Homo sapiens: one gene and its partners. The protein of the gene in region 6 interacts with the protein of the main gene of each other region in a pairwise test. Each region holds a gene or a part of one and is shown on either strand. Other genes may lie near its edges.

Region 1 (4,245 bases), on a different chromosome or scaffold from region 6:
CAGCTGAGTTTTTTTTTTTTTTTTTTTTTTTTTTGAGATGGAGTTTCGCTCTTGTTGCCCAAGCTGGAGTGCAATGGTGCGATCTCGGCTCACTGCAACCTCTGCCTCTCAGGTTCAAGCGATTCTTCTGTGTCAGCCTCCCGAATAGCTGGGATTACGGGCGCGTGCCACCATGCCCGGCTAATTTTTGTATTTTTAGTAGAGACATTGTTTCATCATATTGGTCAGGCTGGTCTCAAACTCCTGACCTCAGGTGAGCCGCCTGCCTGGGCCTCCCAAATTGCTGGGATTACAGGCGTGAGCCATCGCACCCGGCCCGGCTGGTTTTTGTATTTTTAGTAGAGACCAGGTTTCTCCGTGTTAGTCAGGCTAGTCTCAAACTCCCGACCTCAGGTGATCTGCCCGCCTGGGCCTCCCAAAGTGCTGGGATTACAGGCGTGATCCACTGCGCCTGGCCATATTAGTATATTTTATTTCATACATATACACAGAGAGAAAAAAAAGAAAAAGAGAAAAGAAAGCACTGATATATGCTCTAACATGGATGAATTAGAAAACATTAAGTCAAAGAAGCTAGACATAAAAGGCCACATGTTGTATAAAAAATTCAATTTACATGAATTATCCAGAATAAGCAAATCCATAGAGACAGAAAGTAGATTAATACTGGGAGGAGGGGTGGGAGGGACAGGGGGCTTGGGGAGGAATGTGGGGTGGGGTGGCTGCTAAAGAGTGCAGGTTCACTACACCGGGGTGATGAAAATGCTCTGGATTTACTGGGGATGGTTGTAAAACTTCATGTATATACTAAAAAAAGTGAATTGTACACTTTAAAAGGGCATTATGGAATGTGAATTTTATCTCAAAACAAATTGTAAGTGAATGTCAAAGACTGGCAATAAAGTTTTTCTGACATGGAATGTTAGAAATTTCTTTATTATTACTTATTCTTATTAAGCGCCAGCTTTAATGCTGCAGAAAATTTCAAATCACCCTTGATAACCCACTTTCTTTTCTCCCACCCAAATTCTTGATCAAGAGTTTTTCAAGTAAAGACATGCTCTTCTCTCTTCTGTATAAAACTTTACGAAATAAAGGCAAAAGATTGTGTACATCTTGCTGGAAAATGCTGCCCAGGGCTCTGGAGACGGTGGCTGCCCGGGCTCCCTTCACTGTCCAGGTCCTGAAAGACTCTTGTTCATGAACTGTCTCTTCACAAAGCAAGTCCACCACTAACAAGAGAGAACAACACAGAATGAACAGCGGGGTCAAATTACAATAGAATTTGCATTTATTTAATAATAAAATTTCACATTAGTCTGGAATCTCTTATAAACTTTTTTTTTTTTTTTTTGAGACGGAGTCTCGCTCTGTCGCCCAGGCTGGAGTGCTGGAGTGCAGTGGTGTGATCTTGGCTCACTGCAAGCTCCGCCTCCTGGGTTCATGCCATTCTCCTGCCTTAGCCTCCCCAGTAGCTGGGACTACAGGCGCCTGCCACCACGCCTGGCTAATTTTTTGTATTTTTTAGTAGAGACGGGGTTTCACCATGTTAGCCAGGATGGTCTCAATCTCCTGACCTCATGATCCGCCTGCTTTGGCCTCCCAAAGTGCTGGGATTAGAGGCGTGAGCCACCGCGCCTGGCCATAAACCCTTTTTAGACAAAGTCTCACTCTGTCATTCAGGCTGGAGTGTAATGGCATGATCTTGGCTCACTGCAACCTCCACTTCCTGGGTTCAAGCGACTCTCTTGTCTCAGCCTCCTGAGTAGCTGAGATGACAGGTGCACACCATCATGCCTGGCTAATTTTTTGTATTTTCAGTAGAGATGGGGGTTTCACCATGTTGGCCAGGCTGGTCTCGAACTCCTGACCGCAAGTGATCCACTCGCCTCGGCCTCCCAAAGTGGTGGGATTACAGGCGTGAGCCACTGCGCCCGGCCTGCAATTCATTATTTAGTGTGATTCAGTGAACTCATATTACATACTAGACATATACTGGAAGTTAAGCAACATTGCAATGCAGAAATTAAAAATATTCTTGCAATGGAAGACCTTAGTGTGTTCAATGGTGGCTATGGGATAAAAGGTGATTTACCAATTAAGCAGGCAAGAAGAGGGTCTTACCTTGCTGGGTTTATCATTCTGAGGGTCGAAAACTTTCTCACAAAGTCTCAGTCCAGTCTCTTGCCTTAGCTGTTGTAAATAGGCTCTCATCACTTCTAAAACAGAACAATTTAAAAAAAACTGTATTTGCAAATACATCCCAAATGTACTGGTTGCAGCTCTGGATGCTCACTGTGGTAATACATTTTTATACATTTGAACAGGATACAAAATAGAAATGACAGTCCAGATAGTTTTATAACTATATTTGTTTTTGTTCAAAAGATTTTCTGCATGTCATCCTTGTTGCCAAGAATCGTTTGTGAGAGTGACTAATAAGATAATGTACTTCCTATGATTTCACTCTCAATCTGTACATGAATCAAGGCAAGAAAAAGAGGGGTGGTAGGAAGTCAAATGGAGAAAATCTTCTTGTGTCACAGAGTGAGGATAGAGACCTGTTCTTACCATCTTCCTGTTTGTTTGCAGGTTTGGCATAAATTGCGTTAAGTGGAAAACCAGGCTCTCCAGGAATGGGAAAATTAGTGATTCCCAGCGTATACATTTCTTTCTCACCTTGGCTTTTGGAATTGCACTGGAAAAAAAAATATATATATATATATACACACACACACACACACACACACACACACACACACACACACATATTTTACAGGGAAAAGAAGAATTCTATCCTTGGACCCCAGGTTAAGAACCCTTGAGTCAAGGGCTTAAAAGGAATTCCTCTGTCAAGATTTCTGTCTTGAGAAAATATATTCAAAGCCTTAAAACACCACTACTTTTATCTTTGTGTCAGTCAATTATACTACAAGTTCAGGTAACTAAATTCAAATTTTTCTCTTAAGTCCATGCTGTAAGTCAGAGGAAATATTTTCTACTTGTCTTTAAAGTCTCAACAAATCCCAGATGACTGGGAGGGTAAATGCCTCTCAGCAATTTGTTTTCCTGATATACAATCATCCAAGTTTAATTACCTTTTGCAGTTTCTTCAGACATTCAGAAATGTAGAGAGTTATATATATCAAGGTCCTATCAGCTTCATTCTACAGGGAGAAAAAGAAGACTTAAAAACAGTTATCAAAACATAACAATGATGTGCAATGTATGCATTCCATCTTTGTCTTCTGATTATCTGCTGAATGCAGTGGTAGGACAGCCACTATCACATCAAAACTCCCATTCTCCAAATGCACAGTCTCCTCAGTCTCCTTTTCCGTCTGCCCCTGGGAGGAAGGCACAAGCCCCACTCTGAGATGTGCAGCTGCTTTTTTTTTTTGAGACGGAGTCTTGCTCTGTTGCCCAGGCTGGAGTGCAGTGGCACAATCTCAGCTCACTGCAACCTCCACCTCCCAGGTTCAAGCAATTCTCCTGCCTCAGCCTCCCGAGTAGCTGGGATTACAGGTGCCCGCCACCACGCCTGGCTAATTTTTCTATTTTTAGTAGAGACGGGGTTTCACCATGTTGGCCAGGTTGGTCTCGAACTCCTGACCTCAAGTGATCTGTCCACCTCAGCCTCCCAAAGTGCTGGGATTACAGGCATGAGCCACCACGCTCGGCTGAGTGGCTGCTCTCTCTTGTTTTTCTCGGCTCCCCTTGCCCCAGGGTTCCCAAGGATCTGTGTCAACAGCCCCTCACTGTATAGGAAGAAGTAACAAAGCTGCCTGGAAAGCCTGAACTGCTCCATATGGTTGGCTAATTTTTAAAAACCCTTCCCTTCAGGGTCTCTGCCGAGAACAGAAATAGTCATTACTCTAAAGGAGGAAGCAACTATTTCACATTTGACTTGCTCCCAAAGAACTCCATAATCTCAATGTCTTGACCTAACCAAAAAGAAAATGTGGAGAAGACAAATGAATGTTGATCAAATGTGGTATGGACTTTGGGTCAAATTTTACACAAATTTAGGCCAGGTGCAGTGGCTTATGCCTGTAATCCCAGCACTTTGGGAGGTTGAGGTGGGTGGATTGCTTGAGCCCAGGAGTTTGAGACCAGCCTGGGCAACATGGCGAAACACCGTCTCTACTAAAAATACAAAAATTAGCCAGTCATGGTGGCGTGCGCCTGTAATCCCAGCTGCTAGGGAGGCTAAGGCCACAGAATCGCTTGAAGCCAGGAGGCAGA
Region 2 (4,737 bases), on a different chromosome or scaffold from region 6:
GAAGATCACTTGAGCCCAGGAGGTGAAGGCTGCAGTGAGCCATGACTGTTCCACTGTATTATAGCCTAGGCAACAGAGCAAGACCTTGTCTTAAAAAAAAAAAAAAAAAAGAACCAGGAACACAGAAAAATTTTTCCAGACTAATACTCAGTGAAATCAAGTGTGGATACTTAGACACTTAAGACAAAAGTTAGCAGTTAATATTCCAAGGACATCTTTCCTCAAATAACCATTATTACCTGAAGACTTCTTGGAACCAAGTCAAAATGGGTACAGGTAAAAAAGAGTAAAAATTTTTTCTATTAGAAGAAATATCATCACTGAGTAAATTAAGTAAATCCCCTCTGCCTTATACATAATCAATAGAGAAAAGGGAAAAAAAGTTTCCTCACTTAAAGTAGATCTAGTCCTGTCATGGTATAAGAATAATTATGAAAACCAAAGTGACCCTTTATGAACTCCACAAGTTATTTCACATATTTTCTAGATCTCTAAATCAGGATAGAACCCATGTACTCTGAAAATACAAAGCAAAACAAGTCTTAACTCTTACAAATATTTCAATTAAAACTATAACTAATATTTTCACTAGGGTGGTACAGTGTTTCCTCATTCTATTTTTAATCTTACCCTTATCTGTTCAGTGGAGCTGCTGCTAAGTTCATCACCAGATTCAGAATCTTGATGTATTCTTTCAGAGCCTTCTCCTGCGGAATCACAAGATTGTTCCTGGGAGAAGCTAGTTTTCTCTACATCCAAGAACTCTGGACCGGGAAAATGACCAAATGAGCGTGTCCTATTCTGGCTGGAAACTTTAGGAGAATGTGAGTCATTGTTAAACTTTCCGTTATTATGGGTCAGGTCCAGGCTTAGGTTGACAGTCTGACCTTGATTATAACTGGGTCCAAAATTCTGATTGGCATCACGAATAAGACCTGTTCCTTGAACAGATGACGATGGCTTTCCGAAACTTGAAAGCTCAGGCAATTTGTTCACATTTTCTGTTGATCTCTGAAGATGCAAACTCTGCATTATTTTCGTGGAGTTATTTGGCAGACCAGCTACCTGCTTAACAGGTGGCATGAGAGCTTTGCGCGTGACCTCCTTCACATACTGGGCTGGCACATAAAACGCTTTGGAGTTTTCATCTGGCTTGACTTGCCACCAGTCATCATTGGTCTTTTTCACCAAGATGTACCTCTCCCCTTGTTTTATCACAATCTTTCTGTCCTTTGCTTCATATTCATAATCATATTCCACCTCAATATACACTTGTCCTGGAATAATCTTCCCACTTCTGTCAGCCATTTTCATTCAATAATATTCACCTCTCAAAAAGGATGTTATACCACATTATGGCTTTATGGCTTGTTGGATGAATATAGCTGTTTTATTTAAATGGAGAAAGAGAATGAAGAAAAAAGTTAATGCAATCTGGATTTCGTATTTACTCACAAGCATCATATAGTATAGGCCATTTAAAGAACATTACTTCAAATCTCAAACCCCAAAAAGCAAACATGTGTCTACTATCATATGCACTGCCACATTAAAAACACTTTCATTCTAATTGTAATCTACATTTTTCAGTCACTTATGACCAAAACAAAAGCCGATAACTGGAACAGTAAATATACACTAACCAGGTAGACACAAGAGTTGAGAAGAACTTTCCTTCCTTTCATTACTCCCTCAAACCTCCTTCACCTTCTTAGAAAGGCTCACTAATAACTAATATGCATTTACTTTCATTTCTATAACAATTCCAAAATATTTTAGTACCTCCTAGAACACGGCATTACGGGTTTAAATGATCACCTCCTAGAACACGGCATTACGGGTTTAAATGATCACTGCATCCTCACATCACTACAGCATGAGCCAGTTCCCACCTGTTTGGGGATGAATTGTGTTCCCCCAAAAGACAGTTCAAGTCCTAACCCCAGGATCTGTGAATGTGACTTTATTTGTAAAGAGGGTCTTTGCAGATGTAATCAAGTTAAGACAAGGTCATATTTGATTAGGGTGGGCCCCAAAATCCAATGACTGGTGCCTTTATAAGTAGAGGGAGATTAAGGGCACAGTGGCTTACACCTATATTCCCAACACTTTGGGAGGCTGAGGCAGGTGGATTGCTTGAGCCCAGGAATTTGAGAGCAGCCTGACCAACATGGCAAAACCCTGCCTCTACAAGAATTACAAAAATTAGCTGGGTGTGGTGGCATGCACCTGTAGTCCCAGCTACTTGGGAAGCTGAGGTGGAAGGATCTCTTGAGCCCAGGAGGCTGAAGTTGTGGTGGACCAAGATCACACCACTGCACTCCAACCTGGGTGACAGAGTGAGACTTTGTCTCAAAATAAAAAGAAAAAAAGGAGGAGATTTACAGAGAGGAAAGCTACAGAGGGAGAAGACCATCTGAAGAGAGAGGCAGAAACTGGAGTGGAGTGAAGCAGCTAAAAGCCAAGGAACACCAAGGACTGCTGGCAACCACCAGAAGTCAGGCAGGGGTGAGGAAGGAAGGGTTCTCCCCTGGAGCCTTCCGAGGGAGCACGGCCCTGCCAAAACTGATTTTGGACTTCTAGCCTCCAGACCAGTGAGAGAATAAAAATAACTGTCTGCTGTTTAAGCACTCCAGTTTGTAGTATTTGTCACAGCAGCCCTAGGAAACTAATACATTCAACCCAATGCTCAAGGATCCTAAGGCAAACTGAGATTTACCAAAAATGTGCAAACCCAAGGTTCCATAACAACCTACTAATTTTCTATAGCAAACAAGTACTGAGCATATTATTCTACACTACAGGTGTAGTAACCATCATTCTCCTGAGGATAACAATCTTCTCTATGACAGATAACGCCTATAAGGCCAGGTGGTAAGTCAATTAGTCACTGATACAATTTTGTTAACTGAAATTTACTTTCTAGACAAACTACTTGACTAACAAATTTAATACAACACATTTTCAAAAAATAAAAAATTACCTTAGAACAAGGAGATCTACACCAGTATCACATTTAAACCTGTAAAAAAATAAATAAGTTCATTAACTCAAACCAAGATCGCTGAAGACTAAGAATATAATGTTGCTTACATTTTTAAAAGCAAAACTTTTTTTATAATAGCTATAAGGAATCAGGAAAGTTTTATACATCAAGATTGTGGTCAGCACCGCCCTCCAAATACATGCAAACACAACCACCAACAGCCACTGAGGCTGGCTTTACCACTGCCCTCTCCCACTGTACTTCCACACTGTCTCAAACTTCATTTTGTCCCTTATTTTTAATTCTGACAAGCATCTTTCTAAACTTCTGATTATACAACAAACATCTCTTCTATTATAAAACTGTGAGGATGAAATAACTGTTTTTCAAGTTTATGTATTGAATGGGTAAAGAGAATAAAAACGTATGTTAAAAGTTATTAGGTGTCCTAACACATTTGTCCCCTGATTACTTCCTAATTATTTTATTTATTTTTTTATCTTATTTATTTATTTTTTGAGACAGAGTCTCTGTTGCCCAGGCTGGAGTACAGTGGCACGATCTTGGCTCACTGCAGGCTCTGCCTCCCAGGTTGAAGCAATTCTCCTGCCTCAGCCTTCCAAGTAGCTGGGATTACAGGCATGAGCCACCATGCCCAGCTAATTTTTGCATTTTTATTAGAGATGGGGTTTTGCCATGTTGGCCAGGCTGGTCTCGAACTCCTGACCTCAGGTGATCCGCCTGCCTCAGCCTCCCAAAGTGAGGGGATTATAGGCATGAGCCACCGCACCTGGCTATTTACTTTCGAGACACAGTCTCACTCTGTCACGGAGGCTGGAGTGCAGCTGTACAATTTGGGTCACTGCAACCTCCACCTCCTGGGCTCAAGCAATTTTCCCACTTCAGCCTCCCGAGTAGCGGGAACTGCAGTTGCACACCACCACACTCTGCTAATTTTTGTATTTTTTTAGAGATGAGGTTCCACCATGTTGCCCAGGTTGGTCTTAAACTCCTGGGCTCATGTGATCCACCCACCTCTGCCTCTCAAAGTGCTGGGGCTGCAGGCGCGACCACACCCAGCCTACTTACTAATCTTAAATAGGATAAAATACCTTAACAATGGAAAGATGTGGTGGCATAAGCTTAACCAAATGATCAAACTTAAGAGCACTAATGCGACCTGACAAGATATGCCTCCTATGTGATGCAATAAAACATACACAATGTCACCTACGTTATATTCTTGTCAAAAGCATGTTTCACCTTAAGCAATTATTAGAAAACAATCAAACAAATCCAGAATGTGAGACATTCTATTAGACAACAGACCTGAACTCTTCAAAAAAGTACTGTCAAGGGAGGGGGATTCTTCTAGACTAAAAAAGACTATTAATACATAATAACCAAATCTACTTGGTGGTCCAATAAATACCTCAAACTTATCATAACCAAAATGTATTCCCATCTCTACCCTACCCGAGCTCTGCCAAATATGCTCACCCCATGGTCTCTTCCATCACAGTAAACAGGAATTCTGACCTTTCAGACGCTCAGTCGTTACTTTCATGCATTACCAGAACGCTAGTCACTATGTGCTTTGATCATTTACCTATACAAATTTTTCACAACTTTTCAAAATTTTACCCTGAAATGCTTATCCTTAGGTGATTTTTTTTCCAGGAAAGTAATAAAATAACTTAAGAAATATCTTTGAAGATACAGAGATGAGCGAGGGAATATGCAGCTACTTT
Region 3 (4,737 bases), on a different chromosome or scaffold from region 6:
ACAAAAACGAAACTGCAGATGCCATGGTTGAGAACTCCAGCGACCCTGCATCGTTCCACATGTCTGTGTCTAAATAGACTGTACACAAAAGCAGCCATGAGGCAGATTTCTTCCTAAGGTAAAGGAATAAACACTTAGGGAGCGAACGCTCTCTGTAAATGTTTTTGAAAGGCGCACCATCAACGTGGAAGCAGGATTCTAAACAATCCTGCTACCTGAATCACCAAGAAGGTTCACCCAACAAAACCTGAAAGAAATCGGGAGCATGCAGCTGCCTCTGGCCATCTGTGCAGTCGGCTTCCCCCTGGCATTTTCCAGACTGCCATGAGAGGCTACAGCGGTGGTTCTTTCAGCTTCCCACTCTGCACGAGAACAGCCTTGGTCCTGGTGGAGTTCACTGCCACAGTTGCTTTATGTACAAGAATGTTTATGCTTCCACAGAGGCCGGGAGCACAACGGGAAGTGTCACCCAAACAGCTGGTGACTCCACAGAAGGGAAGATGTCCCTTTAATTTAAAAGGTGCCCCTGAGCAATCTATTTGCCTCAGGTGCTGGGCTCAAGGCACTACCTTCCTCTTATTTAACCAGCACTTTGGTTGTATTTTGCAAGAAAACAAATTGTTTGTTTTTGTTTTGTACCAATTTGAGAATTATACTATTGCATACTAGTAAACGGCTCCCCACCACTGTAATTGCCTCATATCTTTCTTCCTTTCCGTTTATTTACTCTCTAAAATATCAAGTCCTGAAGAGTTTTCTTTAAAGGGAGAGGAGAAGAATTTGACCATAAAGCACTGTGAAAAACAAAACAAAAACAGGAACAGAAAAGCCAAATGCTCTGGAACAGAGAAGCACACCCATGAAGCAGTGAGAGCATCCTCGTGCTGTCCAAAAACACTGGTCCAGGCTGGGCGCAGGGGCTCATGCCTGTAATCCCAGCACTTGTGGGAGGCTGAGGCGAACGGATCACTTGAGCCCAGGAGTTTGAGACAAGCCTGGGCAATGTAGTGAGACCCCCATCTCTACAAAAATAAAAATAAAATAAATTTTAAAATTATCCAGGTGTGGTGGGGCACACCTGTAGTTCTCACTGTTCAGAAGGCTGAGGCAGGAGGATTACTGGAGCCCAAGTGTTCGAGGCTGCAATGAGCTAGGATCGTGTTATTGCACTGTAGCCTGGGAGACAGAGTGAAACACACACGAGCCGGGCGCAGTGGCTCACACCTGTAATCCCAGCAGGCCTCAAAAAGGCAGGCCTAGGTCAGGAGATGGAGACCATCCTGGCTAACACGGTGAAACCCCGTCTCTACTAAAAATACAAAAAAATTAGCTGGTATTGGCGGGCGCCTGTAGTCCCAGCTACTTGGGAGGCTGAGGCAGGAGAATGAAGTGAACCCGGGGGGCGGAGCTTGCAGTGAGCTGAGATTGCGCCACCGCACTCCAGCCTGGGCGACAGAGCGAGACTCCGTCTCAAAAAAAAGGCAGGCCTGCCCTCCGAGGGTCACTGTGGAGAACGTGCAGCCAGCTCAAAAGAGCAGTTGACTTCAGAGTGCCAGATGGGAAAAACCTGACATTTACCTTTTCCTCCGGAGAACTGCACAGAATTTAGCAGGGTGCTGCATGCACAGTAAGAGCTCAGACAGTTTCTGGATGTTCATCTAGGACACTTCACCATGGGCCTCACCGTCATAGATAGTAAGTGGCAAAGAGCATGACTGCAAAGTCACCAGGAAAACAGGGATGTGAGCAAGATGAAACAAGAAAAGGGATCACCTATCACATACCGAGGGCCCCGGGCAGAGGGTCCAGAGGACTGCGATCACTGCCACATCTACCCACCCATCCTCCAGGGAAAAGAGAAAAACCACAGATTCTCCATAAGCCTTTGGGCAAATAGAAAGTGGCCCCTGGGAGAATCCATCCATGAAAATGACAAAAGTGTTCAGTTCAATGAGGATCATAGTCATCTCATTCTTCTGGCAATGGCTCTGCATTCTGCTTGGCTGAGTCTGTCACCCTGCAGAGAGGATCCATTCTTGAGTGTGGTTTTTTCTCCCCACTCTCTCTCTTAGGCTTGAGTCTGATTCCATTTGAAAGTAATCAGAAGACAACCATATGGTACCCCTTCCAGTCCCCAGCCCCTGCCATTTATTATAGTCAGCAGCTTGGGTGGTGCTCTCTCTGCCCTGGGTCTGCTTTTTCTCAGGCCCCGCACCCCTCTGGGCACTCTAGAGAGAGAAGCACAGAGAGCAGAATGCAGTTATCAGGGAGAAAGCATCCACTGGCCTCTGCCCTATCTTACAGCCTTATACCCAAAGCTCAGTGAGGAACAGAGAACCATAAAAGTGGAAGGCGACCAAGGAACCAAACCACAGAGGGAGCCATGTGGAGTAACATCACCACTTGAGTAGCACTAATACCGACCTCATTTCTGAGGGTGTGCCCAATGCCAGGCGCTCTCCAGCTGTTTGCGTGGTTTGGCACCCTTCTCTCACAAAGGTCCTTCAAGACAAGTGCTGTTATTGTCTGCATTGTACAGACAGGAAAATTGAGGCTTAGCATGTTCAGCAACTTGCCCAAGGTCAGTCCCTCAGCTGGTAAGAGGCAGAGCTGGAATTCAAAGCCAGGCTGCCACAAGTTCAGACTTCTGTCTATCAGGGCAGGATGGATGGGGCAGATAATGATGGGGTCTCTTCAGCTTCTGGATGGCCAAGAAAGGAGATACCCTTACACAGGCTTATGCCGGCTGGGATTGGGGAGGCAGTGATAGTACCACCACATCATCATCAGCTGGAGCAAAGCTGGCGGGAGACACAGGATTCCCTAGGTTGGCTGCCTCTCTGAAAAGCAACGCCTTTAGCTCTGCGAATGACTGTCCACTCCCTGAAAGGGAGCTGGACTTTGAGGCAGCTGAGGGTGGGGAGCAGGTGGTGATCAAAGCCACAGGATAGAACAGTGAGGCAGGATACTCTTCAATCTCTGTAGTACTTAATCTTCCAAACCTCAGTTTCCTCATTAAATTATCAATGTCTGAGACTTAATAGTGATTATGTATGTGACTCTGCTTTGTAAGCTCGAACATGGTCTAAAAACTTAAGGTATTATTAGAAATTCTGGCGTAAGGCCAGGCGCGGTGGCTTATGCCTGTAATCCCAGCACTTTGGGAGACCAAAGCAGGCGGATTGCCTGAGCTCAGGAATTCGAGACTAGCCTGGGCAACATGGTGAAATCATGTCTCTATTAAAATACAAAAAATTAGCTGGGCATGGCGGCATGTGCCTGTAGTCCCAGTAACTCAGGAGGCTGAGGCAGGAGAATTGCTTGAACACGGGAGGCGGAGGTTGCAGTGAGCCGGGATTGTGCCACTGCACTCCAGCCTGGGAAACAGAGCGAGACTCCATCTCAAAAAAAAAAAAAAAAAAAAAAGACATTAGCGCGTAAGAGGGAATTTTCATAGAAGCTGTGTGCAAGGGGTTATAATTACCCTACTAGCACATCCAAATACCTGAAGGTCTACTCAGCAATTAAAAGAGATAAACTATTGATACATGCAGGATGAGTCTAAAAAATATGCTGAAGGAAAGAAGCCAAGTACAAGGGTATGCACTGTATGACCTACATGCAAATCTAGGAAATGCAAACTAATGTACAGTGAAAGAAAGCAACTGGGCTGGGCGTGGTGTCTCATGCCTGTAATCCCAGCACTTTGGGAGGCCGAGGCGGGCGGATCACCTGAGGTCAGGAGTTCGAGACCAGCCTGACCAACATGGAGAAACCCTGTCTCAACTAAAAATACAAAATTAGCCAGGCGTGATGGTGCATGCCTGTAATCCCAGCTACTTGGGAGGCTGAGGCAGGAGAATCACTTGAACCTGGGAGGCGGAGGTTGCATGCAGTGAGCTGAGATCGCAGCATTGCACTCCTGCCTGGGCAACAAGAGTGAAACTGTCTCAAAAAAAAAAAAAAGAAAAGAAAAGAAAAAGCGACTGGTGGCTGCTCAGGGTTGGGGGTTGAGAGAGGACTAACCACAAAGGGGTACAAACGAAACTTTTAGGGGCAGTGAACGTACTGTGTCTTGTAGCAGGTAATCACACAGGTACAGTTGTCAAAATGTATCAATCTTTAAATAGGGTTAGCTGATTGTACATGAGTTATAACTCAAAAAAGTTTTTTTAAAAAAAGCACATCGGCTGGCCGGGCAGGGTGGCTCCCACCTGTAATCCCAGCACTTTGGGAGGCCAAGGCGGGATGATCACTTGAGGTCAGGAGTTCGAGACCAGCCTGACCAACATGATAAAACTCTGTCCCTACTAAAAATACAAAATTAGCTGGGCATGATGGCACATACCTGTAGTCCTAGCTACTTGGGAGGCTAAGGCAGGAGAATCACTTGACACCTAGGAGGCAGAGGTTGCAGTGAGCTGAGATCACGCCATTGCACTCCAGCTTGGGCAACAAGAACGAAACTCTGTCTCAAAAAAAAAAAAAAAAAGAAAAAAAGCATATCAAGGTATTTTTTTTTTTGTTTTTTTTTTTTTTGGAACCAGGACCTCGTGTAGCCTGGAAAGTTCAGGAGACTTGCAGTTTAGCCTGAGGCTCTTATGGCAATGCAGTCCCTGCATACCAACTGTGTGACTCTAGACACGTCCTGAACTCCTCTAAGCCTCCAGTCTCATCTTAAAACAAAGCATATGTTGTGTGCTTTACCTCACAAGACTGCTGTGGGGTATCTAATAC
Region 4 (4,379 bases), on a different chromosome or scaffold from region 6:
ACCTGGAGGTGTTCTTGTTTTCCACAGCGGGTGTCATCCTAATTGTGAGTCACGGCTCCACTCTGGACTCCTGCACGCGGCCACTGCTCGGGCTGCCGCCCCGGGAATGTGGGGATTTTGCCCAACTCGTGAGAAAGGTACGCGCCCACTCTTGGCTCTTTGGGCCACAAAATCAAGCATCCCGAAGACACAGGTTTATCTCATCCACTTCTCGGAATGAAAACAAGTGTCCGGCTGACCCAGGGCCACCAGGATCCACGTGCCCCCGGAGACTGTGCCCACCGGCTCTTATGCGAAGGGTGACTTCGGGCTGGGGCTGGTGGATAGGTCAGTCAACCTCATCATCATTGGCCACTTGCCAACTTTTTACCAGTCAGCTCATGCCATGACCCCTTGCAGCTCTCGTAGAAAAACAGACGGTCCAGGAAGGAGTAAGCAGTTTAGATGAGGAGGGAAGAAACGACTGTGGGACTCGATTCTGGCCTCTTCTGGGGACCTGGGGCAGGGCGGCTGATGGATGAAAAGGAGCCCCTTGATCCTCTTGCCCTTGGAGTCACCCAGCATGGAAGAAGCTTGAGCTGGTTGTAGCTGCCAGAGTGCTCAGGCTCTGGCAAGGGCCTTGTGAATGACAAACAGAGGATAACGCACACGTGACATCTTGGACAACCTTGATTATCACTCAGCAAAGCCAGAGGGTGATGTCCAGTCCATGGGTGAATTGAGGCAGGCAAACTCAGGAGTGCAGATCCCACCCCAGTCCCAGCCCTTCCCTGCAGATCTACTCAAGGCTGGACTCACCACAGTCCTGACCTTTTTATGAAATTCATCAGTCCACTGGTCAGTGCCCAGGCAGCACGTGCAGCATAGACAATGCCTGTCATCGGAGGTGCTTGAGGCCCTGACCTGGTTTCTTCACATAGCACTGCCACAGGACCACACTGGCCACAGCTTGTTTGCCATAAGTTGTGGGCAGCAGTGGGGGTTGCTGAGTCCCCCCAAGAGGTCAGGGGCTTCAGAGGAGCCCAACTCCCGGGCCCAGCCCAGTGACACCAGCCAGGTGCCTGCAGGAGGGCTTAGCTCTCTAGCTACGCCTGCCTCAGCAGCCAGATGAGAGGTTACGCACATGAAGAGCATGCCTGCCGTGGGTCATTGTCACTCAGCAATTAGGCATCAGACACCCGAATCTCCCTTTCTTGCTCCATTTTCCTCTGCACCTGAGTAGAAACATGCTTCCCCTGCAAAATGTCTCCAGGGTGGTGTGTCCCAATTATGATCCAGACATTTCCGAGCGCCCTGGATTCTTGAGCCACCAGGTGAGCATTGTCCAAATAGGGCAGCTCAACCCCCCTGGGCCACACTGGTAGAGGTCTGCATGGATTTTCCTGGGGACTGTCCGGGGCAGCCCCGGCACCACCTGCTCCCAAAATGTTGCTCTTGCTTCTGCAAATGGGTCTCCCACACATGCGCTCTGATGCATTCCTCCTGTCCCTGCCCCGCTTCCCACAGTCCCATATACACATACCAAGCCTCCAGCCCCAGGCGCTCCTGGGGGCCCACGTAACCAAGGGTGGCAGCACTGCACACACCAGCTGCTGACAGTTCCTCAAACCCATGAGCCTTTGTGGCCAAAGCTCCACCCACTCCTTGGACCCTTCACCCCCTTCCATAGATGCCAATCTTGAACTTCCAAACTCCTGGACTTTCTTATGCTGGTCACGTGGCGTTCACCCTGCCCCTACCCCAAAATAAGCTGGACTTGCTCATGCATATCAGAAAATACAAAGGGGGGGCTCTACCAAATGATGGGCCCCCAAATCAGGGCAGCTGGAAAGGGAGCACTCAGGACCCTCCCCGACCAGCCCATCACCGCCCCTCGCCCACAGCCTCTGCAAGCGTGAGGAAAGAATCACCCTAGGGTCAACACCAGCCTCACTCAGACCCCCCTGCCAGTTGGCATTTTTGTAAATTTCATCTGCCTGAGGAATTTCTAGACATTAGAAAGAGGAAGGAAAGAAAGAAAAGAAAAGACAAAAACAAAAAAGGCTTCACCACAAAGCTCTGTTCTCACACATCCATTTCACAGATGAAGGGATGGAGGTCTAAAGGTTCACTTTGTGCTTTTCTTTTGGGTCTGAAAACTCAATGTCTGTGTCTTTTTGTGATGCTGAATATGAGAATATGAGTCACTCCTTAAGTGGTGGATGGCAATCTCCACCTCAGCCTGCAGACCTTTGTGGTGGGGGCTGTTCTACTCATTGTAGGATGTACCACCTTGTAGGACCTCTACCTGCTAGGTGTCGGCAGCACCTCCATCCTCAGTTGTGACAATCAGAAATGTCTCCGGAATTACCCAGTGTCCCCTGGCTAGGGGACATCCCCCACGGGGCACCGCCAGGGCAGATGTTGGTGCCATTCAATGGTGGCAGTGCCAGCCTGGGCAGTCGCAGACCCTCCAAAGTAGAGGTGTGCCTGACAGTTGGCTTTGGAGCTAGTCTGAAATTGATGGACTTGCTATAAGATATTAACAAGTGATTTAAAACTCTGTTCCAGATCCCTTCCCTGGGCATGTGCTTCTGTGAAGAAAATAAAGAGGAAGGAAAATGGGAGTTGGTGAACCCACCGGTGAAGACCCTGACCCACGGGGCGAACGCAGCATTTAACTGGAGGAACTGGATCTCAGGCAACTGAGAGCCACGGTGATGTTGTCATAACCTCAGAGTGGAGAGGCAGAAACCATGTGCAGAGGCTGGGAGATGCTGCTGTTTCCAGAGGCGTCTTAGTCTCACCCAATGTGATTTGTAGAAGCACGAGACGCACTTTTATATCCCGGAATATTTCCCTCCGGCTTTCGCCTTTGTAACTCCCATCTGTGGACCCATCGTCCACCAGCCCAGCTGCGGGGAGCACAGGGCAGGTGGCTGGGTGAGGATGCCGCCCTGCAGCATGTACACCGAGTGTCTGCAGCTGGGGACACAACTGCCCGGGACTCTAACTTCCAGGAATTAAAGACTCACCACACACGAAGGATCTAACCACTTCATTTTCCATGGTCTAATCATTAAATTCCCAATCGTTTTTTCTTTTTCTGGGTCCATCACTCTTTAGCCATATCCACATGGGCTAAAACAGGTGTAATAGTCAATAAAATGGTCCCAGAAAACCATCGACCAGGTCAAAACTGGGTTGCTGCTCCGTGCTGTCAACATTCATGTTACTATGTCTCTGTGGTTGCTGTAACCAATGACCACAAACCTGGGGGTCATGGAAAGAACACAAACTTTACACACACACACACACACACACACACACAGGCACATACACACATGCACATATGCATACAAAGACAGGCACACACGAGCATGCACACACACAAACACGTGCACATACACATGCGCACACACATGCACACGCACATGCACACACACGCAGGTACACAAGCATGCAAACACACATACACATACAAACGCGTGCATGCATACATGCACACATGAGCACACAAACACATGCACACACTTGCACACATGCACACAAAGGCATACACATGCAATGCACACACACAAACACACATGCACACACAGGCACACACACGCTCACATGCACACACACACACGCTGACTCTCCTACGGTTCTGGAGGTTGGCATTTTCTCAGCAGGCTATGTTTCTTCTGGAGCCTCCAGGGGAGGATCCTTGCCTTTTCTCACTTTTAGAGGCCACCTGCATCCTCCCTCCTCAAGTACAGCGGCGTAGCAGCCTCCAAGCTCTCTCAGTCTCTGCCTTCACAGCCACATCGCCTTCTGCTTCTGACTCTCCTGCCTCCCTCCTACAAGGGCCCTTGTGTTGACACTGGGCCCACCCAATAACCCAGGATCAATTCTCATCTCAAGAGCCTTAACCACACATGCAAAGTCCCTTTTGCCACATAAAGTTGCATATTCCCAGGTCCCGGGGATTAGGACATGAACATCTTTGGGGGTTATCCTGTAGCCTGCCATAACATACCCCAATCCTTCCAAGCACAGCGGAGCTGCCCGTACAGGGCCTCGGACATAGGGATTTGAGACACTCCCCTTGCAGGCCTTTTTTGGCTTCTCCTATTCTTGTTTCTGATCACGTAGAGGAGAGAAGAGGACTTTGCCAGTGGGAGAAGTAGGCTCCCCCGATTTAATGGGGCCCCAAAAGAAGGGCCACGAGCAAAGTGGAGTCTGTCCATGATGGTGATGCTGAGGAAGCTGGTCCAGCAGGGGATGGGGTCTCCCCAGTGGGGAGTCTCATGCCCCAGCCCACAGGTCACACCTGCTCCCACAGCCCACACATGTGGTGCCTCATGCTGCAGGCAGAGATCCCAGCACGGTGTAGTGACAGTCCATCGGTCTTTCAT
Region 5 (4,667 bases), on a different chromosome or scaffold from region 6:
TGTGGACAGAAGAGTGCCTTCTGTAAAGAAGTAAAAGGGGAAAAACATGTCTTTACCAAAAGAAAAGAATGATACAACTTGTGATAAGAAACCAACAGGGTGACCTCTCTCTGGGGGTAGAAGGAGATGTGTAGATTATTGATGCTTGGAGACTTCAGCGTGGCTGGAGATCAGTCCAGGGTCTGTGTGGAAGGCCTGGTGAATCACACAAAGGGCATTTCTACCCTCATCATTTCATAAAGTCCAAAGTGAAAGATAAGGAGAAGTTTTAAGGTTTAAAGAACCAAAAGTACCTGGAGCAAGGCCCCTCCCTCCCGTTTCCTCATGACTATTGTGCTTAGAAGAAAATCGCATTAATACATAAGCTTTCAGGAATGGAGGAGGAAATAAAGGATATTAAAGTCTGTCCTCGGCATTCATTTTTTTCCTTCTATGAGAAAACAATGATTAAATCTTGAGAGAGGGAGAGGCGTATCTGATCAGGACATCTGTTTTATAAAACTGCAAAGGTGCTTTTCAGCAAGTATTTGAGGCAATGGATCAAGCTGGCAAAGCCATAGAGATGGGATCAAAGAGTGTGCTCTCTACTGTTCTTTTCTAAAAGTACCCACTTATCGCGAGCACAAATTGCAAAGAGATGAGGTGTAAGAATTACCTAAAGGAATGAATAATGGAAGAGGTAGTCAAAATTAGAAATTTTTAAGTCTGCACGTTTGTTGAACACCAGATACTCTGAGCCCGGTGTGGGGATGTGGAGCTAAATAGGGTTCTTGCACTTAGTTGTATTCAAACACAGAATCTAAAGCCTAAACAAAAATAATGATGATAGAGGCCCCGAGAGAGGTTGGTTTTCCGCCAACCTATTAATTGTCCTTAGATTCCACTTGGAAAATGACTTCTGAAAAGAAGGGTCAAATGAATGGGTTGTACTAATTGTTCATTCTCCAGAACCATTGATTCAAAAACTATGAGAATGGAAAAATCATTCCTTATAAGGAGTACTCATAGAAGGACATAACAGGAAGAAGTGGTCTGATGTTTGAAAATTTGAAGAATTTGCCCAGTAGTCAGCACAGAGAAATTACTATATACCAAGTAAGTACAGTGTTTGGAGATGGAAAGTGTAGGAAATGCGGACAGTGGGAGGTAGCACAAAGGTGGCAATTAAAGAGGAGAAATCAAAGGGGAGATGTTTCAAAACCCGGGGACTGAGTCTAGTTAGGTTTTAGTCCAATCATAGAAAATTGTAATGAGTGTCCTGTCCATCTATGATGGCTTAAAAAGATGTCCATAAATTCTTTGGTACTCTTTGCTTCAGAAGGTGGAGCCTGACCCTCTTCCCTTCAGCATGGGCTGCACTGAGCAACTCACTTCTAATGACCAAGATGTGGCAGAAGCGATGGAGGGCAGCTTCCGAGATGGGCATTGTGGCTGCCTCTTTGCTCTCTCTTGGGTCACTTGATCTAGGGTGAGCCAGCTGTCATGTTGAGAGTACATTCAGGCAGCCCTACAGAGCCCCCTAGGGGTTCATGTGAGCAGACTGCCTTGGAAGTAGAGCCTGCATCCCCAGTCTAGCCTTCAGATGACTGCAGCCTCAGCCAGCATCCTGACTGCATGTTTCAAAAATGTGTTAAGATTCTTTGACAAGCTTAAATGTAGAGTACTCTACCATACTATCAGTACTCTAGTACTTGTTGAGGAGCAAGTGTGGCATGGTCCTTTTTCATCCAATTTCTTGAAATCTGTTCTAGAAAGCCAACCGTGGAAGGACTGCAACAGATGAGAATAGGACTGATGGAGTTGCTTTCATGGGAATCATTCCCTGGCTCCCTCTGGAGGCAGAGTTGTTTTGGGTCGGGAGTAACTCCATCTCCATCAGATGCAGGGACTGGTGGCTCACTTTGAAAGGAGGAGACCATACAGCAGTGTCCCAGCTGTCCCTTCAGGGGAAATTCCCTATGAGAGATGTCTGGAGCAGAGCCAGAGTCCTCAGGACAGAATTGGAAAAGTATCCACAGACTGGAGCTCCCTCCATCATGGGCTGCTTTGCCCATAAATGGCATTCCCATCTTTTTCTGGTGACCAAACATTTGTTGGTGGCTCCAGCACTGCCGATGTTTGTTCCAGATTTTCTTTCTTCCAGTTCTCAAACTGCATCAGAGTCCCCTGAAGGGCTTATTAAAACACACGGTGCTGGAGGTTAAAACACAGATGGCTGGGCTCCACCCCAGAATTTCTGCTACAGCAGGGTTGAGGCAGAGCCTGAGAATTTGCATTTCTTTTTTTTTTTTTTTTTTTTTAATTATTTTGAGATAGGGTCTCACTCTGTCATCTAGGCTGGAGTGCAGTGGCCCTGTCATACCTCACTGTTGCCTTGACCTCCCGGGCTCAAGTGATCCTCCCACCCTGGCCTCCCAAGTAGCTGGGACCACAGGTATGCATCACCACACCTGGCTAATTATTTTAAATTTTATGTAGAGATAGGGTCCCACTATGTTGCCCAGGCTGATCTCAAAGTCCTGGCCTCAAGTAATCCTGCCACCATGGCATCCCAAAGGGCAGGGATTACAGGTGTGAGCTTCCATGGCTGGCCCTTGAGAATATGCTTCCTAACCAGTTCTCAGAGGATGCTCATGCTGCTGGTCTTGAGAGCACACTTGGAGAACATCTTAACTAGTTCATCTTCACACTTCACTTAGAGGTGTTCAGTGGTCATATGTAACGGTGTATGTTAGTATACAGATTGTTCTTTTTCAGATTTCCTACAGAAAATCTACTTAGTTTAAATTAAAGAACACTCCCCAACTTTTAGCACTCCTGCTTGGCATAAATTGGTTCTACATCCTTAACTTTTAAAGGTTTCTGCTCAGGAGCCCACGAAATTAAAAATTACCTCTTCTGCTGCGAAAATTTTATTGCTGCAACTCATGCATGCATACAGGCACACACACACCATGATGTTAAATTAAGGAGCTTGAATTAAAAGCAAATTTCCCTTATGTAGAAAGTCATCTGTTGATCATTTGGCTTAATTAAAATTGGGTGTATCTTACATCTACCATGATTCACTCCCATACTGCCTCCACTAAAAATGATGCCACATTATCTCTAAATTGAGCCTGGCTTATAGTAAACTCTATAAGTGAGACTGCCCTTCATCTTTTCCTAAAGATACAACTTCTAGTACAGAATATTAATCATCTATAGGCTGAGGCCTAATCTGAGATTAACCTTCTGGTTTCTTCCTGGAGTTTCATCCAGGAGTATGCCCTGGGCCTCACATGGGGATGAGATGGGGCTTTTCGCCTCAAAGGTTTGTTCTTATTTGGTCTATTTGAGACAGAGGCATGCATAAATACAAACTATACTTACAATTGTTCCTTTCATTCTTTTCTGTTAACAGCTATGGCTGCTGGGTGAGCCCAGCTGCCTTGCACAATTTGAGTCTTCTCAGACACTCATTCCCCTGAGTTGTCATTGGTAGAAATGGAGTGATTCCTTGTTTTGCAAGGGTTGCACACTTCTCATCAAACATTTATTTGGGCTTTTGTGAACTCTGTAATAGACAATGGCCTAGTCCTTTGTTAACTGTCTGGAGGTCCTGCTGGGAGGTCGCAGAGCAGGGCTGAGCTGCTGGACCCTCAGAGCAGGAAGTTTCTGGGCTTTGAGAAAAGCAGAAAACTGGTCTGGGAATTCCAGGAAGAATTTCGGATGTTAGGCTGTGGTCCTGCCACTGGCCAGGCATGTCCGAGGTACCAGCCCTGCCTCGGAGAGCACATGCTCAGCTCCACATTGTCCAGAGGGCTCTCCTGCCCCCACACGCACTTATACATTCACACAGATGAACTCACACGCTACGCATACTCTCACACACTCTCAATACTCACATACTCCCTCTCACATCTGCGCACGCTCACACACTTAGAGCTGCGGTATCTCATGCTCCTCTTTCATGCAACTCTTTTTTTTGTTTGTTTTCTTTTTTTTTTTCATAGAACTTACTGCCCTGTGCAGCCATCTGTACACCTCTATTTATCTGTTCCCCACACCAGATTGTCACAGAGCATATGTCCTGCATGCACACACATGTATCCAGGGCACCGCCTGCCTGGCATGTGTTAGTAACTAATTGTTATTCATTTAATGAATTGATCAAAACTTGATATTTTTGTACAAAGAACATTTATCGTTCAGTATCTTCTTTCCTGCATGCTTTTCAGCAAATGAGATAAAAGACCAATTTTTTTTTTTTTTTTTTTTTTTTTTTTTTTTTTTTGAGATTTTTCGCTCTTGTTGCCCAGACCAGAGTGCAGTGGCGTGATCTCAGCTTACAACTTCCACCTCCCAGGTTCAAGCGATTCTCCTGCCTCAGCCTCCCAAGTAGCTGGGATTACAGGCACACTACCACCATGCCTGGCTAATTTTGTATTTTTTAGCAGAGATGAGGTTTCACCATGTTGGCCAGGCTGGTCTCAAAGTCCTGACCACAGGTGATCCACCTGCCTTGGCCTCCCAAAGTGCTGAGATTACAGGCGTGAGCTACTGCACCTGGCCAATAAAAGACACATTTTAATTAAAATAATGACATGTTTCTAAAATATTCTGAAATAGAAGGCACATCACAGAATTTAAATATTTTTCAATAAAATCTGTAATCAAACCATAGT
Region 6 (4,737 bases):
TGCTAATATCTAAAATTATTGTACTTTATCTATTAAGCTCCATGACAGCACGGACCTTGCCTATCTTATTTCTCACTGTATCCTCAACACCAAAACAGCACTACACACCAGCCATTCAATAAATATTTGTTGAAGGAATATTTAGTTATCAGATTTTATAAGCATACTTCTATATTATACTGACTTTCCATATTTAACCTCTTCATATATCTATATATAAAATATGTATAAATATATACACCTATAAATATATAAATACATATACCTATATATAAATATATAAATATATATAAATATGTATATAAATATATATATAGGACCCATGAAGGCCAAGTATATAAAGTGGGACAGTGGCTGAGTAATTGTACTTGATAATGATAAAAAGCCAGTAAGACTAGGTGACATACGTGTGGGTTACATGTACAGAACACAGAACAATCTTTTTCTTCTATTTTTCTCATGTAAAATTGATTGTGTGAAGGTAGTATTTGAAGAAGTACTGGAGCTCTAGTATTAGAACTTGAAAATTAACAGAAGCCCAAGAGAAGCAACATTATCTTCTCTTAGCCCTAAACTAAGTTGTTACTTTTAAAACGATAATTATTTATTATTTATTTATTTATTTATTTAAGTCTCATGGTCAGCTCTAAATTGTTACAGAATTTATTTGGAAAGGAGTTCAATTGAGTCATGTTAATTTCTGTTTACTCTTCTAGCAAGGGAAATAATTTGCTACCAGATTTTGCTAGACATGCTTCACAAAATTTACCTGGATGAAAAGCATCAAAGACACCTGACTATGCTGGCATTACAGACTGACAAAAGACAGAAACTTATCAGTATCTATGGTGAAGAGGAAGAAGTAGCTAATAATTTCATCATCAGGTACTACCACAGAAATACTAACAGTTAAAATAAATGGGTCTGAAAATAAGTAAAAACCATCCTATATTTTCATTATATTAGCGTGACTATTACATACTATTAAAAAAAAACTTATTGTAGGGAAATATTTAGCAGAACTCACAGATACCAGCATAGAATAAATGCTTTTTCAGAATCATGTAGTTCACAGAAGCCTTACATTTCTTTATGAATGAATGAAGACCTTTCTTTATCTCTTCCTAGCAAACAACCTCTAAACAAAGCTTGAGATTTTTAGATCTCATTCCTATGACATTACTATGACATAAAAAATTCAGGCAGTTTACCTCATCTGTGAGGATTAGGGCTAAGAATTTAGGTAATTTTCACTGTTTTTATGCTAAAGAAGACTATACCATAAACATAACCATAACTTTAAATACCAGGTGTCTATGTATATCCTACTGACATGCAATTTAACAATTCAGACCTCTCCTGTGACTTCCAGACTCATAACGAAATGCCTACTCCACATCTATAGTTGAATTAATAGGTATCTCAAATTTAATATGTAAAATCAAACTCCTAATCTTCCCTCTCAAACTTTTTCTTCGTAAGTCTTTCCCCTTTCCAGTTGTTCAAGTCAAAAACCTTGGAGTCATTTTGCACTCTTCTTTTTCTTCAACCTTCACTTTCAAACCATCATCAAAACCAGTGATCTCCACATTCAAAATATAATTAATATTTAACCACTTCTCATTGGTGCTATAAACCTGGTTCAAGCCTCCATCACCTCTTGCTTGGATCATTACTACACCTCTGCTAAAAACCCTCCAATGGCTTCCCATCATATGCAGAATAAAAGCTAGTGCACTTTCAGGGGTCTCCAAAGCCTTACCACTGGCCTCCTACTACTTCTTGTATTTCATTCCTTACTATTCTTTCCCTCCCTCCCTTGCAAGCTCCGTGATCTCCTCATTGTTTCTCAACCTCACAGACTTTATATTTTCTGTTCTTTCCATCGGATACACTTTCCCTAGTTTTCTACATGGTTCACTTCCTGAACTGCTGGTCTTTTCTCAAATGTCACCTCAGTTAGGCTTTATTGTCCCTTATCATCCTTTATCATTTCAAAATGAACCTCTCTCTCAACAGTCTGCCCCCTATTTCCCTTTTCTGTTAGACTTTTGTCCTTACTTCATGTCACCATTTAACATACTGTATGTTTTTCTAGTTTTCTTTGTTTATTGCTTGTCTCTCTCTCTCATTAGACCTAATGCATGTCGATGAAGGCAGGGACTTTTTTTTTGTTAAAATTTTATTATTATTCCACAATAAATATTTATCTCTATCTCTGTAATGGAGGGTAGGTACAAATATGCCTATTTAAGGAAAACAAACATTGCTCAAGGATCTTAAGACATGGACATCCTTACAGAGAAACAAAAGGAAGGTAACATTTATTAAGCACCTACTATGTGCTAGGCAATCTGCAGGTTAGTGACATACTATTTAATTCTCACATCTATATGTTTTGTGAGTTCTCTGAATGTAACAAACAAGAAACTGAGGCTCACAGAGATTAAATAAATCTAAGAAGAAAGATCTGATTCTAGCACATCATGTTGGAGAAGCTATTTAGCAAACCTCAACTACTCCAATCAGCAAAACTCATATTCTTGTTCTTTCTTTAAAGGAATATTTATATGGTGGTATGTATATGTTTAATAATAACCTCAGAATAGGTACTGGTTTCTTCAAATCAACCTTTTAGAAAATGAAAAAGAAAGGTTTAAAAAAAGTTAGTATTCTTTAGCAAACTCTAGAAACAGTAAAAATTACTGAAATTCTTATCCCTAATCCTTACAGATGAGGTAAATGGCCCGATTTATTATTATTATTATTTATTCATTTTATTTTTGAGACGAAGTTTTGCTCTTGTTGCCCATGTCGGAGTGCAATGGTGCGATCTTGGCTCACCACAACCTCTGCCTCCTGGGTTCAAGCAATTCTCCTGCCTCAGCCTCCCGAGTAGCTGGAATTACAGGCATGCGCCACCACGCCGGCTAACTTTTTTGTATTTTTAGTAGAGATGGAGTTTCTCCATGTAGGCCAGGCTGGTCTCGAACTCCCGACCTCAGGTGATCCACCCGCCTCGGCCTCCCAAAGTGCTGGGATTACAGGTGTGAGTCACCGCACCCAGCCCTGAATTTTTCATGTCACAGTAATGTCACAGGAATGAGATCTAAAAATCTCAAGCTTTGTTTAGAGGTTGTTTGCTAGGAAGTCTATTAGCATTTCCTGATATAGGAAACAAAACTGTCAATATTCCCAAAGCTGTTCTTTCAATTTATGGCTATGGCTGTGGTGGTGTTGCATTTGTTAAGTCTCAGAGAGACTAGTCACACAGGCAACAACTTTTTAAAATACATCCTAGAGCCCACATCAGTAGTTACTCAATTAGCAGAGAGAAAGCTAGCAAAGACAGTCATAAAAATAACAGAACGTCAAACATTCAAATTTATTAAACACACACGCACACTCTCTCTGTCTCTCTCTCTCTCTCTCTCTCTCTCTCTCTCTACCTGAAGAATGAATGGCTTTGCTCCTTTTCTGCATCACTTCCATTAATGCACCCACAATTCCTGAAGTGGGTGCAGGTGTTGGTGGTGTAGACTCTTGGCCATCAGCCACCTTGGAAAAGAAAGTTAGCAAAACTCAGTAATAAATCTTTAGCCAAGAATCTTTGTCTCCAGAAAGTCCTACTTTCTTAGAATCACTTCTTATTGTAAAAGACAAAAAAGATATCAAACTGGCAAGCGCAGGACAAGATTAATCAAATTAACAAGAAATAAACTGCTGCCTTAAAGATATTATTCAAAAATATTTCCTTTCCATCTTAATGTATAAGCCAAAAATACATTTCCAAATCTATGTTTACATTCAGATAACAAACCCTCTCCTGAATAATACTTGCTGGGTTACTTCTGTTTATTCCAGCACACACAGACTTAGATGATCAACTTTAAAGCTTTTATCAAGGGATTTCATGTTATAAACAGAGGTTAATACTTAGACTCCAGAGTTGTTACGTGGGACGCACACTGAAGATATTGAAAAACAACTGTAGAAACTTATATTTGCCTACAAAAATTCAGCTTTACACCTTTATGTTACATTTATACCTTCAAAATGAACCTCTTTTCTCATAGTATATAATTTCTTTTTAAGGAGATGAGTTGATCAACTTTCAAAATGTACCTGCCTCACTAGGCAAGTAACAATCCCTAACTGAAGTACTTCCAGCTGTGCCAAAGTGCATTCATGAAAAAAAAAATTATAATTAAAGATGAAACAGCATAGCTGTATTAAATAATTACCTATGTTTTAATACATACATATATAATATATATTTTTGAAATTCTTAATCATTTCCCAAAGACAATTTTATTTAGACAAACTTTCCATTTTGATCTGTACAATTCTTCCTCTAATACTCCTTGTTCTTTCTGGAGTAAACACCTTTTTTAAAAAAATTCAAAGTGGTTCCCCCTAAGATATAGATTCATTCCTTAGTATTTTGGCTTTAAACATTATGTATTAACTATTTCCAGTATAGAAGTACCACAAATGAAAAAAGATAACAGAGAGTTTCAGAGCTTTGTATTTCTGCACAAGGCTCTCAAGGAGGTACAACAGCGGTAGGGACATTTAGACTACCTTTAAGCAATGTGATAATGTAAAGCAGAGAGCACAAAGCAGAAGTGAGCATACTCTCATCAAACACATTTTTTGAAGTGCTTACTTGAACAAAGTACTATTTGAGGTACTAAAACCATGGAATTCAAAAATATATGTGAGTATTCAATACCT
Region 7 (3,737 bases), on a different chromosome or scaffold from region 6:
GTGGGGTCACACACCTCAGATGATGTTTCTTTGTGTGTGTTGTGGGGTCACACACCTGGGATGTTTCTGTGTGTGTGTGTGTTGTGGGGGGTGATGTTTCTGTGTGTGCATGTGTTGGGGGGGATATTATTTGTATGTGTGTGTGTGCGGGGTGATGTTTCTGTGTGTGTGTGTTGTGGGGGGTGATGTTATGTGTGTGTGTGTTGCAGGGTCTGCACATGTGTGTGATGCTATCTGGAGGTTCTGTTTTGTCCTCTGGGTCCTGGCCTTGTCCCCAACCCCATCGCAGACTGAGGGGGCCGTGCTGCTCCCCCCCATCCCCCGCTCCTTGGCCCCCATCCCCGGCAGCAGAACTCCCGGATGTGGCCGCCCGCCCGCCCCTGAGTCTTTCTGGGGGCCGTTCTGGACTCCAAACCTTCCTCTGTGAATATTTTGCTGTACAAGTCTCTGCGTCTTGATCCAATTTCTATGATTTATACTTTCCATAATTTTCTCTGGTCAGGATTTTCAGATTTACGACCCGCGTGCGCTCTGCTGTCCTGCGTTCCGGAGAAGGCTGTCTGTGTCTTCCCTGCCTGCTGTCTGCTGGGAGTGCACTCTCCTGCACTGTTTTTCCCCGACCAGGGCCTGGGGTGCACCCCTCACGCAGGAGCCGCTCCCGCCTGCCTCTGCCTTTCTGGGGGGTGGCAAAGTCTCTTTCGCAGCCCTGCCCTCCTCCCTCACCCCCTCCCGAGGCAAAGTTTCTCTGCCCCCAGTGGATTGACAGCTGGCGCAGATGGCCAGGGTCTGGGGCTGGGGGTGAGGCCTGCAGATCACCCCCTTCTGCACAAAGACCCTATGGGAGTGGAGAGTGGAGGGGCCCTATAGGCTTGCGCGGGGATGGAGCCCACGTTTTAGAGGGAAAAGCTGTGGGCAGCGTCTGATGGGCATCCAGGCACCGCCCTGGCCGTAGCAGCAGGTGGCACGTGCTGGCCAGTGCCCTCCTGAGCTGGCCCTGCGCGTACTGGCCAGTGCCCTCCTGAGCTGGCCCCGCGGATGACCAGGACGCTGTGCCATTGGCTAGCCCCTACCTGCCTCCTCTCGTGTCCTCCGGGGCCCCCATGCAGAAGCAAGTACAGACTGTGAAGGGGGTTCTGCAGCTTTATTCACAGGCCCCAGGGGATGAAGGCAGCAAGGACACAGACGCGGGGGACGCCCCGGGATGGCCTCTCCACCCCCAGGACTGTCAGGGAGCCCCTGACAGGATTGTGGGGGCTGGAGGATGTGGAGTCCCACGAGCGGCCCTGGTGTGCAAGAGGGCGGAGGGTCTCTGCCTCGAGGGGCCTTTCTGGCCTCTCTACTTCCAGCGCCCGCCGACTTTGCCCTTGGCTGGGGTCCCAGCCTTCTTGCTGCTGCAAATGGGAAGCAAGTGATCCTTCAGGGTCAGGGCCTCTGGCCATGCCCCTCCTGGTCCCCCACCCTGGGCGGACTCTCAGCCCGACCCCAGGCTGCTCTCAGGGCACAGGCCCGGCCCAAGCTTGCGGCCCACACCCAGCTTCAGTCCGGGCAGTGCCCACTCACCTGTGCCTGGCGGGCCTAGGTCGTTAGTGTGGTTAGGGGGCTGGCACGTGAGCCCGGGGCACCCTCCCTCTGTCCTCCTTTCTTTGCCTGAGGTACCACTGCAGACAGACCCCTGAGCTGGGGAAGACTGTCTTAGCAGATAATGATATAATCCTAGACGCTTGGCCTTGAAAGAGCTCATGCCCCTCCAGACGGTGGCCTCTGAGGGGCCCAGGAGCCTGCCCCATTTGTCTGAGGTCTTCATGTGGCCACGAGCCGGGAGGAGCTGGGTGCGGGTGAGGGGTGAAGGCGGGTGGAGGACAGGAGTGCTTCGGCCCGCGAGGCCGGCCCCATTCAGACGCGGCTGCTCAGCAGGACACCTGGCTGGCAAAGGCCGTGCCCTCACACACGTTCCTGGGCACTCTCGGCACATGCACACATGCACACACGCAGGCACATGCACACCACGCCGACTGCCCACCCTCAGAGGGGTCTGCAATGACCCCTGACGGCACAACAGGGAGGCCGTGAGGTCACGTGCACCACGGAGGAGCCCGCCCTGGGCGCCGCAGGGAAGCCAAGGCGACAGGAGGAGGGAGAAGAATCCCAGAAAACATCGAAACTCCAAGTAGCCCCCAAACACTGCGATCCTTGGGGAAATGGCACTGGCTGTGCAGCTGGGCTCCATGACAGGATCCCCAGCGTGGCATCGCCGGGGGCACCCTGGGTGCAGCCCCATGCAGGTGGTCGAGTAGCTGTGTCAAGGGATCCCACAGCCCCCAGGGACACGATTTTATGGATGAGGTTTCACCATCCTGAGGAGTCCATGATTTTGCCCAGCGTCACAGAGGGGCTGGTGATGAAGCCCTGACTGCTTAATTCCCTGTCCTAGGTCCCCTTGGAGGGTGGGACACTGGCGGGATACCCTGGGGCCCAGGTTGGCCACACCAAAGGCCCCCCGAGTAGCCCCTTCTAGGGGTCCCCTGGCTGCCCTCTCCCTGCAGCCAGTGCCAGACTCGGGGCGAGGGCGTGACAGGCAAGCCCCATTGGGATCCCTCCTCCTGACTCTGCCACCCCCCAGGGCTCCCCTGCGTGCAGGAGAGGGAGGAGGCTCCGGGTCCCTGGCCACAGGCCTGCGCATGCTGGCCTGGGTGGCCTGGCCGGGTTAGTCTCGTTACTGCCCTGCCGAGGCCAGCCACCACCGGCCCTTGTTAGGGACTGGCTACAGCGGCTGGCCCCAAGGGCCCCTGTGCCCAGTGCGGAGCGAGGACGGCAGGGCTACTCACTGCTTCTGGGCCTGGTCAATGCGGCTCCTGAGCGTGGTGATCTGTGAACAACATGAGTGACTCACTGCGACGACCCGAGGGCCAGGCCTGCGTGTACTGGGTGAAGGCCTGTCTCCACCGCAGGGTGGGCTGGGCTGCGCGACCCAGGGCTGCTGGGCCCCCATGAGGGCTCCTCGGCTCCCTTACTGTCTCCTGGCTCCTTGTGCAGGGGGACACCGTCCCGTGGCCCCTGGGCTCATGCCTGGACTTACTCTCGCCAGCCTGTACTGGCCTGGACTGCCACACACAGCAGCCCGTAGCTGGCCACTTACCTTCAGCCTGCGGCAGGATGTGGGGCGGGGGGTACGGAGCACGGATGGGGCTGGGGAGGGGTTGCAGGTGAGGCCTGCGGACCCCTCCTTCTCAGCTCCAGCTCCCTTCAGCCGCTGAGCTCAGAGCTCCGAACGGCCCTGCTGCTCCTGGGCCAGCCGCTCCCGCCCTCGTGCCTGTGCCCAGGGGCACTCTGTGGCCGCTGCTGGCTTGAGGCGGAGCTCCTGGGAAGGTGGGGGCCCTTCCTCGCTTGCCAACAGGGCAGCGGCCACTGGGAAGCCCCCGGCTGCAGGCACGAGGGGAGAGCGGGGGCAGGAGGAAGGCTCCAGGCCCCCTGCCGCCAGCATCCTGAGCGATCCAGGTTTTTGCCATGCGAGAGGTTCACCTCACCGTGCAACGCACACCCACGGGCCTGGCCCAGGGCGGACCCGGCTACTTACAACTTGGCCAGCATCTGCACTCTGGCCCGGACATTCATGATCTAGAAAGACCAAGATGGTTACAAGGCTGGATGGGCGGCTGGGGCATCGAGGCCCGGCTGTGGGCTAGCTTGGCCTGGTGATGGCCCTCCAGGCTCTGGAGCCCCTGGGGGCCCGCTGTGGC

The links.
Region 1: the proteins of WASL (region 6) and ARPC3 interact in binary tests that used the Homo sapiens proteins (3 or more experiments, as listed by UniProt).
Region 2: the proteins of WASL (region 6) and ARHGAP12 interact in binary tests that used the Homo sapiens proteins (3 or more experiments, as listed by UniProt).
Region 3: the proteins of WASL (region 6) and UBASH3B interact in binary tests that used the Homo sapiens proteins (3 or more experiments, as listed by UniProt).
Region 4: the proteins of WASL (region 6) and UBASH3A interact in binary tests that used the Homo sapiens proteins (3 or more experiments, as listed by UniProt).
Region 5: the proteins of WASL (region 6) and NCK2 interact in binary tests that used the Homo sapiens proteins (3 or more experiments, as listed by UniProt).
Region 7: the proteins of WASL (region 6) and TNNT3 interact in a two-hybrid assay, tested with the Homo sapiens proteins (one large-scale study listed by BioGRID and IntAct).

What each region holds. Positions count from the first base shown.
Region 1 is NC_000012.12:110,433,986-110,438,230, forward strand, and holds the end of ARPC3 (actin-related protein 2/3 complex subunit 3), read right to left. Parts: intron 3,168-4,245; coding exon 3,099-3,167; intron 2,699-3,098; coding exon 2,572-2,698; intron 2,220-2,571; coding exon 2,125-2,219; intron 1,233-2,124; coding exon 1,170-1,232; 3' UTR 838-1,169; downstream 1-837. UniProt on the Homo sapiens protein: Component of the Arp2/3 complex, a multiprotein complex that mediates actin polymerization upon stimulation by nucleation-promoting factor (NPF).
Region 2 is NC_000010.11:31,907,542-31,912,278, forward strand, and holds part of ARHGAP12 (rho GTPase-activating protein 12), read right to left. Parts: intron 3,023-4,737; 5' UTR 2,984-3,022; intron 1,386-2,983; 5' UTR 1,315-1,385; coding exon 631-1,314; intron 1-630. UniProt on the Homo sapiens protein: GTPase activator for the Rho-type GTPases by converting them to an inactive GDP-bound state.
Region 3 is NC_000011.10:122,661,662-122,666,398, reverse strand, and holds part of UBASH3B (ubiquitin-associated and SH3 domain-containing protein B), read right to left. Parts: intron 1-4,737. UniProt on the Homo sapiens protein: Interferes with CBL-mediated down-regulation and degradation of receptor-type tyrosine kinases. Promotes accumulation of activated target receptors, such as T-cell receptors and EGFR, on the cell surface.
Region 4 is NC_000021.9:42,444,507-42,448,885, forward strand, and holds the end of UBASH3A (ubiquitin-associated and SH3 domain-containing protein A), read left to right. Parts: intron 1-27; coding exon 28-137; coding exon of another isoform or gene 138-327; intron 328-2,550; coding exon 2,551-2,688; 3' UTR 2,689-3,178; downstream 3,179-4,379. UniProt on the Homo sapiens protein: Interferes with CBL-mediated down-regulation and degradation of receptor-type tyrosine kinases. Promotes accumulation of activated target receptors, such as T-cell receptors, EGFR and PDGFRB, on the cell surface.
Region 5 is NC_000002.12:105,887,293-105,891,959, forward strand, and holds part of NCK2 (cytoplasmic protein NCK2), read left to right. Parts: intron 1-4,667. UniProt on the Homo sapiens protein: Adapter protein which associates with tyrosine-phosphorylated growth factor receptors or their cellular substrates. Maintains low levels of EIF2S1 phosphorylation by promoting its dephosphorylation by PP1.
Region 6 is NC_000007.14:123,685,593-123,690,329, forward strand, and holds part of WASL (actin nucleation-promoting factor WASL), read right to left. Parts: intron 3,559-4,737; coding exon 3,450-3,558; intron 1-3,449. UniProt on the Homo sapiens protein: Regulates actin polymerization by stimulating the actin-nucleating activity of the Arp2/3 complex. Involved in various processes, such as mitosis and cytokinesis, via its role in the regulation of actin polymerization.
Region 7 is NC_000011.10:1,936,092-1,939,828, reverse strand, and holds the end of TNNT3 (troponin T, fast skeletal muscle), read right to left. Parts: intron 3,616-3,737; coding exon of another isoform or gene 3,575-3,615; intron 2,867-3,574; coding exon 2,826-2,866; intron 1,392-2,825; coding exon 1,337-1,391; 3' UTR 1,127-1,336; downstream 1-1,126. UniProt on the Homo sapiens protein: Troponin T is the tropomyosin-binding subunit of troponin, the thin filament regulatory complex which confers calcium-sensitivity to striated muscle actomyosin ATPase activity.